Linked DNA regions of Homo sapiens: region 1 is linked to region 2. The links come from fine-mapping of genetic effects on plasma protein levels. Region 2 holds a variant in brackets. A gene starts in the other region. All regions are shown on their reverse strands. Region 1 holds the start of LGALS3BP (galectin 3 binding protein). Region 2 overlaps MSR1 (macrophage scavenger receptor 1).

Evidence for each region. PIP is the posterior inclusion probability: the model's chance that the variant is causal. The UK Biobank Pharma Proteomics Project read protein levels with antibody pairs (Olink). The fine-mapping took linkage between variants from a reference panel, not from the people measured, so its PIPs are less certain.
Region 1: it holds the start of LGALS3BP, and the variant in region 2 is fine-mapped to the plasma level of the LGALS3BP protein (UK Biobank, PIP above 0.99).

What each region holds. Positions count from the first base shown.
Region 1 is chr17:78,976,511-78,984,851 of GRCh38, reverse strand. LGALS3BP (galectin 3 binding protein) reads left to right here and starts at 4,929. Exons shown (of 6, transcript NM_005567.4): 1 at 4,929-5,028; 2 at 7,638-7,712. The coding sequence starts at 7,661. RefSeq lists enhancers at 3,903-4,895, 7,993-8,341.
Region 2 is chr8:16,183,106-16,191,446 of GRCh38, reverse strand. The region is part of intron 1 of MSR1 (macrophage scavenger receptor 1); the gene reads left to right. Among named protein-coding and RNA genes, the nearest start is that of MSR1, 5.4 kb to the left of the region's middle. The variant G/A (reference allele first, on the strand shown) is at 4,021.

The DNA of each region.
Region 1 (8,341 bases), not on the chromosome of region 2:
GGGTTTCACCATGTTGGCCAGGCGGGTCTTGAACTCCTGACCTCAAGTGATCTGCCCTCCTCACCCTCCCAAAGTGCTGGGATTACAGGCGTGAGCCACCGCGCCCAGCCGGGCTCAGTTAATTTAGAGTTTATTTTGCCAAGGTTGAGGACGTGGGCGCCCCTGACACAGCCTCAGGAGGGCCTGGCAGTGTGTGCCCAAGGTGGTCAGGGCACAGCTTGGTTTTATACATTTTAGGGAGATATAAGACATCAATCAACACATGTAAAATGAACATTGGTTCAGTCTGGAAAGGCAGGACAACTCCAAGTGGGGAGGGGGCTTCCAGGTCACAGGTAGATGAGAGACAAATGGATACATTCTTTTTTTTTTCTTTTGACGGAGTCTCTCTCTGTCGCCCTGGCTGGAGTGCAGTGGCGCAATCTCGGCTCACTGCAACCTCTGCCTGCCGGGTGCACACCATTCTCCTGCCTTAAAGTTGAAGTCATTTGTTCCCACAGAGAACAGAGTTGTGAAAGGAAAATATCTTGGGCCCCAAAATCACCAGCTAAAGGGAAAAGTCAAGCTGGGACTGATTAGGGCCATCCTGCCTCCCATTCTATTCAGTCACCCTCTGCTCACCAGGCGTGGTGGCTCACGCCTATAATCCCAGCACTTTGTGGGGCGGAGGTGGGTGGATCACGAGGTCAAGAGATCGAGAACATCCTGGCCAACATGGTGAAACCCCGTCTCTACTTAAAAAAATACAAAAAATTAGCCGGCATGGTGGCGGGCGCCTGTAGTCCCAGCTACTCGGGAGGCTGAGGCAAGAGAATGGCTTGAACCCGGGAGGCGGAGCTTGCAATGAGCCGAGATCGCACCACTGCACTCCAGCCTGGGCGACAGAACGAGACTCTGTCTCAAAAAAAAGAAAAAAAAAAAAAGATAATGAAAAGCAAGCTTTTCATTAAAAATAAAAGTGCAAATCATATATCTGCTACAGGAACAGAATATATATAAAGAACTTACACAACAAACAAGCCAGTTTTCAAACGTGCATAAGATTTGAACAGACGCTTTGCCAAAGAGGATGTGTGAATGACAGAGAAGCATAAAGATGCTCAACATCATTCGTCTTTTTTTTTTTTTTCTGTTTTTTTGAGACGGAGTTTCACTCTTGTTGCCCAGGCTGGAGTGCAATGGCACGATCTCGGCTCACTGCAACCTCTGCCTTCCAGGTTCTAGTGATTCTCCTGCCTCAGCCTGCCAAGTAGCTGGGATTACAGGCATGCGCCACCACGCCCGGCTAATTTTTTTGTATTTTTTAGTTGAGATGGGGTTTCTCCATGTTGATCAGGCTAGTCTCAAACTCCTGACCTCAGGTGATCTGCCCACCTCAGCTTCCCAAAGTGCTGGGATTACAGGCGTGAGCCACAGCACCCGGCCTATCATTCGTCATTATAACCACAATGAAACTTCACTACATGCCCACCAGAATGGATGAAATTTAAAGACTGACAATACCAAGTATTGGTGACGATTTAAACCACTGGAACATGAAGAAATTACTAGCAAGAATGCAAAATGTTTCAGCAACTTTGGAAAACAGTTTCTTTTCTTTTTTTTTTTTTTGAGACGGCATCTCGCTCTGTTGCCCAGGCTGGAGTACCGTGGTGTGATCTCGGCTCACTGCAACCTCTGCCTCCTGGGTTCAAGCGATTCTCCTGCCTCAGCCTCCCGAATAGCTGGGATTACAGGCGCCTACCACCATGTTTGGCTAATTTTTGTATTTTTTTGTAGACACGGGGTTTCACCATCTTGACCAGGCTGGTCTTGAACTCCTGACCTCGTGATCTACCCACCTCAGCCTCCTGAAGTGCTGGGTAGTTTCTTAAAAAGGTAAACATATATCTACCATATGACCCAGTAATCCTGCTCCTAGGTATTTACACAAAATAAATACTTATTTTCACACAAAGACTTGTATCCAAATGTTTCCAGCAGCTTTATGCATAATAGTGGAAGATGGAATGACCCAAATGTCCATCAGTGCAAACATGTATTAACAGTGGTGTTCTGTCCATACAGTGGGCCGCCACCCAGCAAAACCAGGAGCCAGTTACTGATTGTTGAGATAGCATGGATGGATCTCAGAAGCACTGTGGTAAGTAAAAGAAGCCACATGCAAAATATTAAATACTGTATGATTCCATTTAGAGGGAATTCTAGGGTCCAGGAGTGGTGCCTCATGCCTGTAATCCCAGCACTTTGGGAGGCAGAGGCAGGCGGATCACCTGAGTTCAGGGGTTCGAGGCCAGCCTGGCCAATGTGGAGAAACCCCTTCTCTACTAAAAATACAAAAATTAGCTGGGCGTGGTGGTGGGCGCACCTGTAATCCCAGCTACTCGGGAGGCCGAGGCAGGAGAATCACTTGGACCTGAGAGGCAGAGATTGCAGTGAGCCGAGATTGTTCCACTGCACTCCAGCCTGGGCAATGGAGGGAGACTGTGTCTTAAAAAAGAAGACAAAATAGAGGGAATTCTAGGAAAGGCAACCAGCAGTGGCAGAAGCTGAGAGGTGGTTGCTGGGAAGGGGCTGGGGGGAGGGGTGGCTGCAGAGGGGCATAAGAGAATTCTTAGGGGTGATTGAAACGCCCTAGGTAATGATTGTTGTCATGATACCATCGCTACACATTTGCCAAAACTTTGCACGTAAATTATATGCCAAGAAAGCCAATTTTTAAAAAGAAGGAAAGGATGGGTTTGAAACCCCAGTTCTTCCCCTACCAGCTGCACAACTTTAGCCGATTACGTCGCCTCACTGAGCCTCTGTTTTCTCATCTGTAACAGGGAATATAAGAGCAGCTGCTTCCCATCATGGCTGGAAGTATTAAATGCATTCATTTGTGGCAAGGCTTATAGTAATGCCTGGCGAAATCCATATTAGCTATTATAGGGAGCGTTCCTCAATTTGCGGAGAGGTTTGGGGTAGAGGCACAAAAGATGACCTTACAGGCCAGTTAACCATTCTCATCTCTGAAATGCCCCGCACTTTCCCTACCATGTCTTGGGAGCGGCTTCCTGATGACAGCAGTTCTGTCCACACGAATCTGAGGCTTTCACCCAGCTGTCTTCTCAGAGCCGAGCCGCTGCCCCTTCCCCTGCCTGTCCCCTGTCAGCGCTTCCCTCCACCCCATGGTCATCGCACACCGGAAAGGCCTTGCGAGCCCCAGGGGAGCAGATGTTGGTGCTCCGATTCCACGAGGAGGCCTCTGGGTTTTCCATTTTACCTGCCTGGATGGCTTAGGACTTTCCCGGACTCTGGGGCTAAAGATTCGGCACCTGAGTTTTAAAACCTTTCCCAGCACTTCCCAGAGATGCCCTCCCGTCCTCTGCACTCCTGTCCTTCCCTGGCCACTTGGGCAGAAGTCATTAGCACTGCTGAGAAGGGATGATGCTGGGGTTTCTGTGCACTCAGGCCCTTAATCCAGATGAGATTTTTTTAAACTCCCCACAGCCAGTTCTATTTCCAGCTGCACCTGCCCCTGGATCTTCACAGTTCCTCTGGAGGGGATTAGGCAAACCGTGCAGCTGCCTAAAACCTCACACCTTGAAGGAAATAGTCATTGAATGTCTGACCTCTGGGCTGGCTGTCTCGGACTCTAAGCTGCCAGGGAACCAGGGCCTTCCACCCAGTGGGACTGCCTGGGGGCTTTTAAATGCCCCTGCCTGTCCCCTACTCCCAGAGATGGTGACTTCCTGGGTCTAGGCATTAGGAGTTTGTAAAACTCCCTGATGATTCTTCTGTCCAGCCCAGGCTGAGAACCACTGGTCAGAGGCCTGGGCACATCCCAAGGCTCATCCAGAACCATGGGGTGCAAGTGACAGAAACAAGAGCGGCTGCTGATTGCCTCACTGAGCGGTGAAGCCCAGCCTTGACCATGGATTAGGCCAGCTGGACCCAGGAGCTCAGGCCGGAGGATGCCTGCTTCCCTCTGCTCTGCCCCACCGGCCCCAGCAGCCTGGGCCCACATCCTCTCAGTCAGAAGCTGGCTCTCACCGGCTGGCTGGGCTCACAGCCCCACCCTGAAACCAGCAGTGTGGCCCGGGGCCCCCGCAGGGCTCAGACAGCCAGGCCTTGGGTGGTTGAAGGCCAAGAGCTGGGGGCCCTCTGGGAACCACACAGCCGGGAATGGGAGGGGGTGCTCCCCAAGGGACAGTTGAGGTGCCGGCTTTCAGTGGGAGGAAAGGGAATGGGTATGAGCTGGACAGAGCCATTATGTCACCCAGAGAGGCTCTGTCCCCCGCCCCGCTGAGGGGGAGACAGTAGGAGAGTGGCCACAGGTCCAGCAGTGGCGAGCACAGGCTCTGGGGTCAGGTGTTGGAGCAGGGTCCAGCTCCTCCACTGGCCAGCTGCATACCTGGTTCTCAGTGCCTCCCTCCCCTGGGGACAGGGGACAGTGCCATGCAACCTTGTGGGGCACAGGCCCTCTGTGTGGTCAGCATGCCAAGAGCACAGAGAGGGTGGATTTGCACATAAGCAGCCCCCTGTGTGGTGTTCACCCAGCCAGCAACGTGCTAGACCCAGGAAAAGACTCGGAGCGCTCTGTCAGAGTCCACAGCCACACCACCAGGTGCAGACTGTCTGGGCCCAGAGCCTCTGCTTCTTCCCCTCCCGTCCACCAAACGCCAGCCCCTGACCAGCCTGGCGGCCTTTCCAACTGAGTGTGGCTGTTAGTCCTCTTGCAGGCCTTGCTCCAGCCAGACTCCCACCTTGGGCCTCTGCCAGCCTGGCACTGATAGCCACAGGCAGAGCTGAGACAAAAGAGAGGGGCCCTGGGGAGTATCAGCAGCAGCCAATCCCGGAAGACATCTATGTCAGGTGGTTTCTGGAAATCGAAAGTAGACTCTTTTCTGAAGCATTTCCTGGGATCAGCCTGACCACGCTCCATACTGGGAGAGGCTTCTGGGTCAAAGGACCAGTCTGCAGAGGGATCCTGTGGCTGGAAGCGAGGAGGCTCCACACGGCCGTTGCAGCTACCGCAGCCAGGTAAGCTCCTGCCTCTAGCTCTCAGGTGGGCACCCCTCTCAGTCTCTCTCTCTTTTTTATTTTTATTTTTTTTGAGACAGGGTCTCACTCTGTCACCCAGGCTGGAGTACAGTGATGCAATGTCCGCTCACTGCAGCCTCTGCCTCCTGGGTTCAAACGATTCTCCTGCCTCGGCCTCCCAAGTAGCTGGGATTACAGGCGCGTGCCACCACGCCCAGCTAATTTTTGTATTTTTAGTAGAGACAGGGTTTCGCCATCTTGGCCAGGCTGGTCTCAAACTCCTGACCTCTGGTGATCCACCCGCCTCGGCCTCCCAAAGTGTAGGGATTACAGGTGTGAGCCACCGCGCCCGGCCAGGGCACCCCTCTCTCTACACAGGCAAGTGGGGGTCATGCCTCCCTGTTTGCACATAGGCCTGGAGCTGGGGATCCAGGGCTCCTGAGTCCAGCAACAATCATTGCTGCTCCCAGGCCCACAGGGCCTCTGTGTACAGTTGGGCAGATTACTCACTGCACAAGGATACCAGCCAAAGGGCAAGTGGGTTAGAATTCAGCTTGGCCCTCTCTCAGACCTGTGCATTTGGCCTAGGCCTGCACCCACTCCAAGGAAGAGCACCTTTTTTTCTGATTTGCACGAAGGGGCCAACACAGGCAGCCGGGTCTCAACTGTATGAAGGAATCAGGCAAAAATAGCCGCTGCCACACAAAGGGCAGCGACGCCACCTGCCAGGTGCTTCGTTGCCCCCCCCCCTTTTTTTTTTGAGACAGAGTCTTGCTCTGTCACCCAGGCTGGAGTGCAGCGGCTCACTACAATCTCTGCCTGCCGGATTCAAGCAATTCTGTTGCCTCAGCCTCCTGAGTAGCTGGGACTACAGGTGCACACCACCATGCCCAGCTTATTATTATTATTATTTTGTATTTTTAGTAGAGCCGGGGTTTCACCATGTTGGCCAGGCTGGTCTTGAACTCCTGACCTCAAGTGATCCACCTGCCCCAGCCTCCCAAAGTTCTGGGATTACAGGCGTGAGCCATCGCGCCTGGCCAGTTGGCCATTTTTCCAAGGCCCTGAGTTACTCTCCCAGGACGGACAAACCTAGTGGCTGCAGCAGAGTGAAGTGGCTGGGGGCAGAAGTGGAGAGGGCGTCCACCCATACCGGCGTGCCTGGGACTGAGGGGTTTCCCAGGACACAGGGAAACTTCAGTGCTAAAACCAGCACAGTCCCCAGCACACAGGACAGGCGGTCACACCCTGGCCCCTTTAGCCATCTACTGACATTGACACAGGGAGGAGAGGTGGGCTCCCCCGAGCAGACCCCCTGCCTGTGGCTCACTGACTGTGGATGTGGAGCCCATTTGCCTCTCTGGGTGTCAGCTCATTCACTTGTAAGGTGAGGTGTAACTAAGGTGGTTCTCAGGGTCACGGTAAGGCCTCCAGTGGTGCCCGGGGAGCCCCGACAAGGGGTGGCTGCACAGTGCCAGCGAGCACGAGTCCCAGAGCAAAGCTGCTCACCAGCCAGTGCACCCAGCTCCCAGGGCGCTTGTTCATGCAGACTCCCATGCAGAGGGGCTAGGGCAAGGCCAGCCATGACTGCATTTCCGACAAGCTCTGGGGATGCCATTGCAGCCGTCCACCAGGCCCCCTCCAAGCAGCCTCAAGGTCACCAGGCCCAGACTCCCAGCCGGTGCCCACAGCAGTGCCACCCAGAGGCCTGCCCCAGGCTTGCTGAACTGAGGGGACAGTGTCAGGTATCACAGGATTCTTACCGAGCCAGAGAAACCATAACTGTCTCTCCATTGGCAGGGTGTGGGGGAGGGAGGCAGACGAAGACAAAAGCGTGGAAATTACACGGAGGCAAGAACACCAGGCCAGAAGGTGGAGACCCGGACCTCCCCAGTCCTGGCCTGAGTGTCAGTGTCTTGGGGATACTTCAGCATTTCCTCCCTGTTCTTCCCCCAGCCTGGCCCACCCTGGGCTGCAGCCCTGACCCTTTTCATCTATCTTCCCCATCGGAACACCACGGAGCCCCGATATATCTCCCTGCCACTTATCTCTGTCACCCCTCGCCCGGATTCTGTGCCCTCTCCTGACGAGTCCCCTCCCATCCACTCTCCAGGCTGCAGCCTCGTCTCTGCCTGCTGAGACCCTCTGGGACAGTCCCTGCAGGGGTCTGTTGCCTGAAGCTTAAGGCCGAGATCTTAACCAGGCTCACCCGGCCTCCCGACCTGGGCCCACGCCTGTGGCCTCCTCCATCTCCCCGCCCATGCCCGTGTGGCAGCCTTGCCCGGGGCCTGGTTTTTTGAGATGAGCTCACTTGCCTCTAGTCACCAATTCTTGCTGCCCTTACTGCCAGGGGGTGCCCCCAGCCCACGCTTCATCTAGCCAAGTGTTACACATCCTTCCAGGACCACACTGCAGACCAGGTGAGGGGCCCCCGCGGGGGCATCCACAGCACACGTCACACTTACTGGGATCATAGTGGGCTCTGCAAGAGAGGGACCCCGCCTGCCACACAGCCCAGGTTGGGCTGAAGGGTGAATGGGCAGGCCAGTCCCTGGGGCCTCGGGCCATCTGGCTCCCGTGCCTCACCCCTCCGCTTCTGTCTGCTGCAGGATCTGGGCATCCAGGCACGGCCATGACCCCTCCGAGGCTCTTCTGGGTGTGGCTGCTGGTTGCAGGAACCCAAGGTGAGCTGAGCCCCTGGGAAATACCAAAAGCAGAAGTGTGGAAGGCTGGTGCACCCTGGGGCTGCTCAGAGCTTCAAGGAGATATTCTGCCTGGGGCCCGGGGCCCAGCGGTTAGCCAGATCTTCTCTCCTGCTTGAAGCACCAGGTATCCCCAGTGATGATGACTTGGAGGTTCCCGGGGGCTCACCTGGGTTCAGGTGAGATGCAGGTTATAGAGAGGACACTAGGGAATCCTCCATTCCGTCCAGAGGGAACCAGAGGGGCTGATCAAACCAGCAGTCACAGGGGCCGTTGTGAGGTCAGTGGCCTTGGACGCAGGTCAGTCTTCCAGAGGGTCCTGGCTGCTTTTCCTCACATTCTTTACACTGTGAGCCCCTGGAAGCTCATGCTCATCCTGGGGGCCCCATGGAAGCCAGATGTACCCCCGACTGGATTCAGGCACCCAGCTCCTGCCCGGCTCTGTCAGCTCCTGTAGGGGCTGGAGTGTTGGTGGACTGAGTCCCAGAAGGACATGTGGGGCGGGGGAATCCCATTATCTGCCCTGGAAACATTCTGCCTGTGCTCCCAGGGGTCCCTAGGCCTGCTGCCCCCATAGGCCAGCACCCCCAAACTGCAGACACCCTCTGCAG
Region 2 (8,341 bases):
TAATTCTCGCAATAATTCTTTAAATTTATATTGTGATCATATTTTACATATCTAAAGAAAGTTCAATTCAAATAAGTTAAAATATTTGCCTAAGATCACACAGCTAAATGATGTCACAGTCAATACTCAAATCTAGATTTCAGATTCAAAAGTTGATGCTCTTTCTTCTTTGCTACCAAGGATGAATATCAGTGACATCAGGCACAATATAAATATTTCCATTTCTTACTAAAATCTGTCTTACAGACGGGTTCCTTAAGCATAAAGCTGTTAGTTTCACAAATAATCTTAATTTAATTTTCATTTTATATACACATTCAACTGCTGTTACAAAAATCAAAGTTATTATTTTATATAATAAGGAGGATCACAAGCTTATTATTTATTCCAAATGTTGAAGATAAAGTTGGCCTTAAGAATATGATGGGCCGGGCACGGTGGCTCACGCCTGTAATCCCAGCACTTTGGGAGGCCAAGGCAGGTGGATTACCTGAGGTCGGGAGTTCAAGACCAGCCTGACCAACATGGAGAAACCCTGTCTCTACTGAAAATACAAAATTAGCCGGGCGTGGTGGTGCATGCTTGTAATCCCAGTTACTCCGGAGTCTGAGGCAGGAGAATCACATGAACCCAGGAGGCGGAGGTTGTGGTGAGCCAAGATCACGCCATTGCACTCCAGCCTGGGCAACAAGAGCGAAACTCCATCTCAAAAACAAAAAGAAAGAAAGAAAAAAGAAAGAATATGATAAAAAAACTAAATAGGGAAAAATCTTAGGAAAACGAATGCATGTCAAGTATGAAAAGACAGATGGTAAATATGTATTAAACATAAAGAGCTGATTCACATGCTTAGGTAAAAGAAACCTGTGGGGATGTATAAGCAGTGAATATGAATAGATAATAACCCAAGAAGAACAATGTATGACAGACAATTACAGTGAAATCTCTCTCTTACATTAATAATAAAAAATAAAAATGAAAACCACTTTTAGGTATTATTTAACTCTTATCAAAATCTAAATGATTCTAAAATAAGCTTTATTATTCAATGGTAGTGAATTTTGCTTGAAACTGCCATATTCACATATAAGTCTGGAATATTTATAAATTTATGTTATCTTTTTAAAGATCACTAAGACAGTAGAGCCCAAGAAGTTCAAAATAGTTTTCCTTTCACTTTTTAGTTTCACATATGATGAATTATCCTAAAGAAACATTTTAAAAGAAGAAAGCTAAATTATGAAAATAATGGCCGGGGCAGTGGCTCACATCTGTAATCCCAGCACTTTGGGAGGCCAAGGAGGGTGGATCACCTGAGGTCAGGAGTTTGAGACCAGCTGGATGAACGCGGTGAAAAATACAAAAATGAGCTGGGCATGGTGGCAAACGCCTATAATCCCGCTACTCGGGAAGCTGAGGCAGGAGAATCACGTGAACCCAGGAGGCAGAGGTTTCAGTCAGCTGAGATCACACCATTACACTCCAGCCTGGGTGACAAAGCAAGACTCAATCTCAAAAAAAAAAAAAAAAAGGAAATATTTATAACATCATTATTTATATCAGTGAAGCATTGCCCCCTGGGAAAAGGAAAAAAAGTTTAAAAGAAAAAATTATATTTTAGAAAAATGGCTGTATTTTTTATTTAGAAAAATGGCTGTATAAATAAGATTTTATATATATATAAAATATATATAAAATAAGATTTTATATATATATAAAATATATATAAAATAAGATTTTATATATATATAAAATATATATAAAATAAGATTTTATATATATATAAAATATATATAAAATAAGATTTTATATATATATAAAATATATATAAAATAAGATTTTATATATATATAAAATATATATAAAATATATATAAAATAAGATTTCATATATATAAAATATATAAAATATATATAAAATATGATTTTTTATATATAAAAATATATATAAAATAAGATTTTATATATAAAATATATAAAATATATATAAAATAAGATTTTATATATATAAAATATGATTTTATATATATAAAATATATATAAAATATATATAAAATAAGATTTTATATATATAAAATATATATAAAAATATATAAAATAAGATTTTATATATATATGAAATGTAAATAAGATTTTATATATATATGAAATGTAAATAAGATTTTATATATTTGAAATATAAATAAAATAAGATTATATCTAAATATATATAAAATAAGATTTTACATATATGAAATATATATAAAATAAGGTTTTACGTATATATGAAATATATGTAAAATAAGGTTTTACGTATATATGAAATATATGTAAAATAAGGTTTTGCGTATATATGAAATATATGTAAAATAAGGTTTTGCGTATATATGAAATATATGTAAAATAAGGTTTTATATATATAAGCAAGTCTTTGCTACATAATAATTCAACACATATATATATGTTGTTTTATATATATATATATATATATATATATATATGTATGTGTGTTGAATTATTAGGTAGCAAACACTTGGAACCAACCCAAATGTCCCTCAGTGATAGACTGGGTAAAGAAAATGTGGCATATATACACCATGGACTACTATGCAGCCATAAAAAAGATGAGTTGATGTCCTTTGCAGGGACATGGATGAAGCTGGAAACCATCATTCTCAGCAAACTAACAGAGGAACAGAAAAAGAAACACTGCATGTTCTCACTCATAAGTGACAGTTGAACAGTGAGAGCACGTGGACACAGGGAGGGGAGCATCACACACCGGGGCCTGTCAGTAGGTGGGAGGCAAGGGGAGGCATAGCATTAGGACAAACTCCTAATGCATGTGGGACTTAAAACCTAGATGATGGGCTGATGGGTGCAGCAAACCACCATGGCATATGTATACCAATGTAGCAAACCTGCACGTTCTGCACGTGTATCCCAGAACCTAAAGAATAATAAAAAAAATTTCAAGTTTGAAAAATTCGTTTGAAATATTAAAATAATGAGGTGATTTTAAGGAAAACGCGTAATACCAAATGATACGTGCATGATGATATGAACTATGTTACAGGTATACATACATCCAAAGACTCGAGTTTCATTTAAAAAATTAAGGGTTTTTTTCCTTTATTAGGGTGATGAGATGACAGAAATTTCATCCTAACATATCTATAATATTATTAAAATGTTTTATAATAAAAACAAAAAAGTAAGGTATATGGTTCCCAACAAATTAACCTTGAAATTCTTTCATTATGAATTTCCTGTAAACTTTTCATCCACTTGATAAAATGCTGATATTACAGAAACGTGTTTCACTTCTCATGAGCACGTGCTTTTAATAGATTACACAAACTCCAAGGATTTTACAATCGTTTATCAGCACACTGACATTTAATAGGAAGAGTAACTTTATGTGAAGCTACTTTTTGTCCTAACTGTGGAACTGATATTAAAAGGCACACTTGAACAGTGTGAGTTGTTCACTGCCTGCTAATGAAGGCTCATGCAAGTATGTATGTTCACGTTACTAAAAAATTACAATGATTATAACCAGAGTAAGCAGCTGAAATAATCTGGTAATTTTAATAATAAATGCTTTTGAAGCAAAGTGGGTTCACTGAGGGTAATATTTTTTGTTTCAGTTTGCTAGTTACGTGCAGTGCAGAGAGAAATATTTTATTTTCCAATATGTAACAGAAGAATTTTTAAAATCCCTACTTTAGTGAACCACAAAGTTTTCTTGAGGCATAACCTAAGATATAAAATCCAGTCATCTTGAAAAATATCTTGCCTTTCATTTATTTATGTAATTTTAAATACGGCATTATGTATGTAATGAGCACCTTCAGGAACTCTCTGATCCCTGAACCAAAGAGATCAAAAGTCCACATCATGGATCTGGCTTGGATGAGAGAAGACAGATGATAGACAAGACAAATAAGGAATATATGTTTTTGGGGGAAAGAAAATGAAGCCAGGGTGGGGAAGACAAAGCCCCAAGGGGTTGTAGGTTGAAAATGGATGTTCAGGAACA[G/A]TCAGCTTGCTTGCTTGCTTGCTTTTTCTTTCTTTCCTTTTTTTTTTTTTTTTTTTTTTTTTGGAGACAGAGTTTTATTCTTGTTGCCCAGGCTAGAGTGCAGTGGCCTGATCTTGGCTCACTGCTACCTCTGTTTCCCAGGTTCAAGCAATTCTCCTGTCTCAGCCTTCTGAGTAGCTGGGATTAGAGGTACCCGCCACCACACTCAGCTAATTTTTTGTATTTTTAGTAGAGACAGGGTTTCATCATTGGGCCAGGATGGTCTCGAACTCCTGACCTCAGGTGATCCACCCGCCTCAGCCTCCCAAAGTGCAGGAATTACAGGTGGTCTGCTTTTTTGAGTCAGACTTTAATGACGGCCTGAGTGAGACGAGAAGGCATTCAGGGGCTTTGAGCATGGGAGTGACTCAATCTGCCTTACTTTTTAAGAGGATTCTTCTGGGAAGTGTGTGGAGAATTAATTCAAGAATGTAAGCGTGAAAGTCAGGGAGCTATTAAAATCAACAAGGTGAGGCCATGCTCAATAGCTCATGTGTGTAATGCCAAAAATTTGGGAGGCTGAGGTGGGTAGATTGCTTGAGGCTAAAGAGTTTGAGATCAGCCTGGGCAACATAGTAAGACTGCATCTCTAGATGGGCATGGTGGCATGCACCCGTAGACCCAGCTACTCAGGAGGCTGAGGTGGAAGAATCACTTGAACCCAGGAGGTCAAGGTTGCAGTGATGTGATCACACGGCTGCACTCCAGCCTGAGCAAGAGAGCAAGACCTTGTCTCAAAAAAAAAAAAAAGAAATGTCACGGTGAAAGGGATGATGGGGCTTGGACAGGATGCTAGCAAGGAAGTGACAAGAAGCCCTCAGTTTCTACATAGCGTTTGAAAACAAAGCAACAGGGTTGGATGAGAGATTGGATGTAGTGGATGAGAAAAGGCGAGGAAAAGAAGACCTCTAGGTTTGCACCATATTAGAATTCTAAGCAGGGGTGTTGTTAGGCAGTGCATATATGGGTTTGTAGTTGAGAGACGAGCTATGGGCAAGAGATAAAGACTTAAGAGTCATCAGCCTTCTAGATTATATTTAAAGCAATGAGGCTAGTGAGATCACCAAGGGAGTGAAAATAGGAGAGAAAACAGAACAGAAACTGGACCCTGGCTCACTCTGCTGTTGAGACGTTGGGGAGATGAGGAGGAATACCCAGAAATAAATAAAACTCCCCTGGATGTGCTATCTCAGTGCAATCATCAGTATCTCTCTTCTCAACAAAAAACCGTGAGCATGAACAACTTTCATTTATGCACTCAGGGACTTTCATTTTTATACATTTATTACTGCCAATCTTGCAAGGTTTTATTTCTGCTTCTACCACACAGGAAAAACAACTTAAATTCTATGTGGCAGGTTATGGATTTCTTGCAGGCCACGAACTTCTTTGTTCTTTTCCATGACCCTGACTGCTTCTTGTTTTTCTCTTGCAGCGTCAAAAAGTTCTTCCTTGTCTTTTGTGCTGAGTCTTCTTCCTCTACTCACCCACTGAATATCATGTTTTTCAAGTTTATGTGTGTGGTGTTTTTTTTTTTTTTTCCTGAAAAAAGGTATCTTCTACTGTTTGACTTTTTCCCTACGATTCTTTGTTAAAATGCTGTGTTTTAGATGCTATTAATTTGTCCTCTCTCTTAATGCCCTTGGATTTTCCTCTTAATTGTCTGCACCATTGCTGTTACCCAAGATGCCTGGCTGGAGTAGATAAAAATAAGCCGAAGTCCAAAAATTGGAATAGAATGGAAGGAATGGATCAAAGGAAATCAGGAGTTTTTGTGCAGTCAGATATGGGTCTTATAGATGAGAGCGGTCTAGAAAAGCAGTTCTGGGCTCAGATTGCGTGACTGTGCTTTGCCGGCATATTCCTAACTATATCACATATTCTCCACTATACAGTAAGTAGATGATAATAATAAGTGGGTATGATAATAAATAGATGATGTAAATGGATGATATAACCACAGTGAAAATCCTGGAAAAAGAAAAGTTAGGTTGCTGTAGAAAATCCACGTTTGTAGCTAGTTGTGTTATGTAAAACAAAAGCTGATGCTGAGATTGAGATCTGGTTTGGCTATATTGGCTTGATCAGGACACAGGCAGTAGTTCAAGCCATGGAAGTAGATGAGATTCTCAGAGAGACTGTGCAGACTAAGAAAAAAGAAAGTAACATCAGAAAATGCCACAAATCCTATGGCTTCATTATCTCTGATGAATGTGAGCTTTTTTTTTTTTCTGGAAAATATACATACCAACATTTCGTGCAGTTCATGATAAACCAATCCCTTTTGAACATTGCCCAGAAAGCAAACAGACTTCCCATGGTGCACAAATGTAGCCATAGGGAATATTGTTCATTCCTCATTGCACTGAGTATGCTTCAGTGTTCACCTCCCTTCTGGCCCACTACACCTGTCAGGGGTATTTTATAGACTAAATAGTGTCAGTTAGTCTAAATCACTCATAGACATGTACTAGGTGGTTTTCCTTTTTCAGAGATTAAATAAATCTTCCCAAGGTAACCACGGTTTAAAATATAGTAATCCACAAAATATTTATTATCACTTCTATATGCTAAAAAAAAATAAATCAAAGGTTAGAAACTTAAAGAAAAAACAAAATCAAGCTTCATCTCTAGTTCAAAGTGAAAGGGAGAAAAGCAAAATGTTTCATAAACAATATATATTGTCTCACTAATAATATTAATCCAGGTCACTACTGCCAAAGCAAACAATAAATTTTTACTTCATTTGTATAGATAGTAATTCAATGTTATATTTTGGGTAGGTTGTGAAAGCCAGATCAATTTATGCGATCAGAAAAATAAAGGAAGAAATTGATGAGTCGGATGCTACCGGCTACATGCCTCTCCAGCCTCTTCTTTTTGAACCTCCTTTGTACCTGTTTAGAGAAAAAGCATAAATAGTGTACTACCAACCTAACTAAGGTTATTATAGTCTGTTTGTTTAAAATACCATTTTTTTCTCCTTTTGTCTTTTTCCCACTCTCGAAGGTACTCAAGAAAATTGAACAGATGTAATAGATCAAATTAAAACATTTTATTTCCTGAAAGCCTTTTTTGCCTGTTGTAATGTGCAGGACCCCTCTCCTTTAATGGGAGAGACAGGAAGTTACCTGAATCTAGGCTGAAAAGGTTATGTGAAAAGAAAGTATAATAATAAAAGGGACACTTGGCTTTTTAAATCTTTGTTTTCTCTTAACCTAAGTAAGGCATATTAAAAATAAATGTTAAGGTGAAAAATAAATGTTGTCTTTATGAAAAATTAAAACTGCTCTCAGTTCCATATTGTTCATACCTTCATGCTTTTTAACATGATATTTTCCATCCTGGAATGACCTTACCCCAGATTCTGCTCATTTTCAAAACCCTGATTCATTGTCATCTTTTCTGTATTCCTACCTTGATTACCCACTTCCCCAAAAGAGTTAATCACTCACTTTTGTACTATGCCTGTGCCATATATATATATATAATTATATATTATATAATAATATAAATATATTTAATATTATATATTGCCAATTCTATGATATATAAAATATATAATATATAATATATTTGCCAACTAATATAATATATAATATATTAACATAATATAAATTACATATAATTATACATATATTTATATTATATATTATATAATTGCCAAATATATATGGTATTACATATAATATAATTGGGAAATATATATTTATAATATATGTTATATTAATATGATAATATATTTATTATATTATATATTATATATATTATATATTTGCCTATTATATAATATATTATGTAATATATTAACATAATATAAATTATATATTATATAATGTATATATAAATATGTATTACATGTTATAGATGTAATTATATAATGAATATTTATATCTATATAGTTATTCATCTATTCATATATGAATATTCAGCATATTCTATTTATTCAGTATATTCAATATTTATTTAATATATTCAATGTTCCAGGTTGCTTTAGGCTGTAGTGACATAATGTGGACAAAAGCAGACATGGTCCCTACTCGTTCAGAGTTCAGAGTGTAAAGATGTTTATCAGATTCAAAAGTCTTCAGCTTTTTTCACAAACGGTCTTACCTGGTAGATAGAATAATCTGAGCTGTTTATTTTGCATTTCAGTAAAAATGGAGGCAGAATATCTCAAATGTGAGGATCAAAGCCATAATCAAACATGTGGAGAAGGGGCCAGTAGGTAGCCTGAAAGGAAAGCTTTTCTGGTTATAGACATGCACTACATAATAATGTT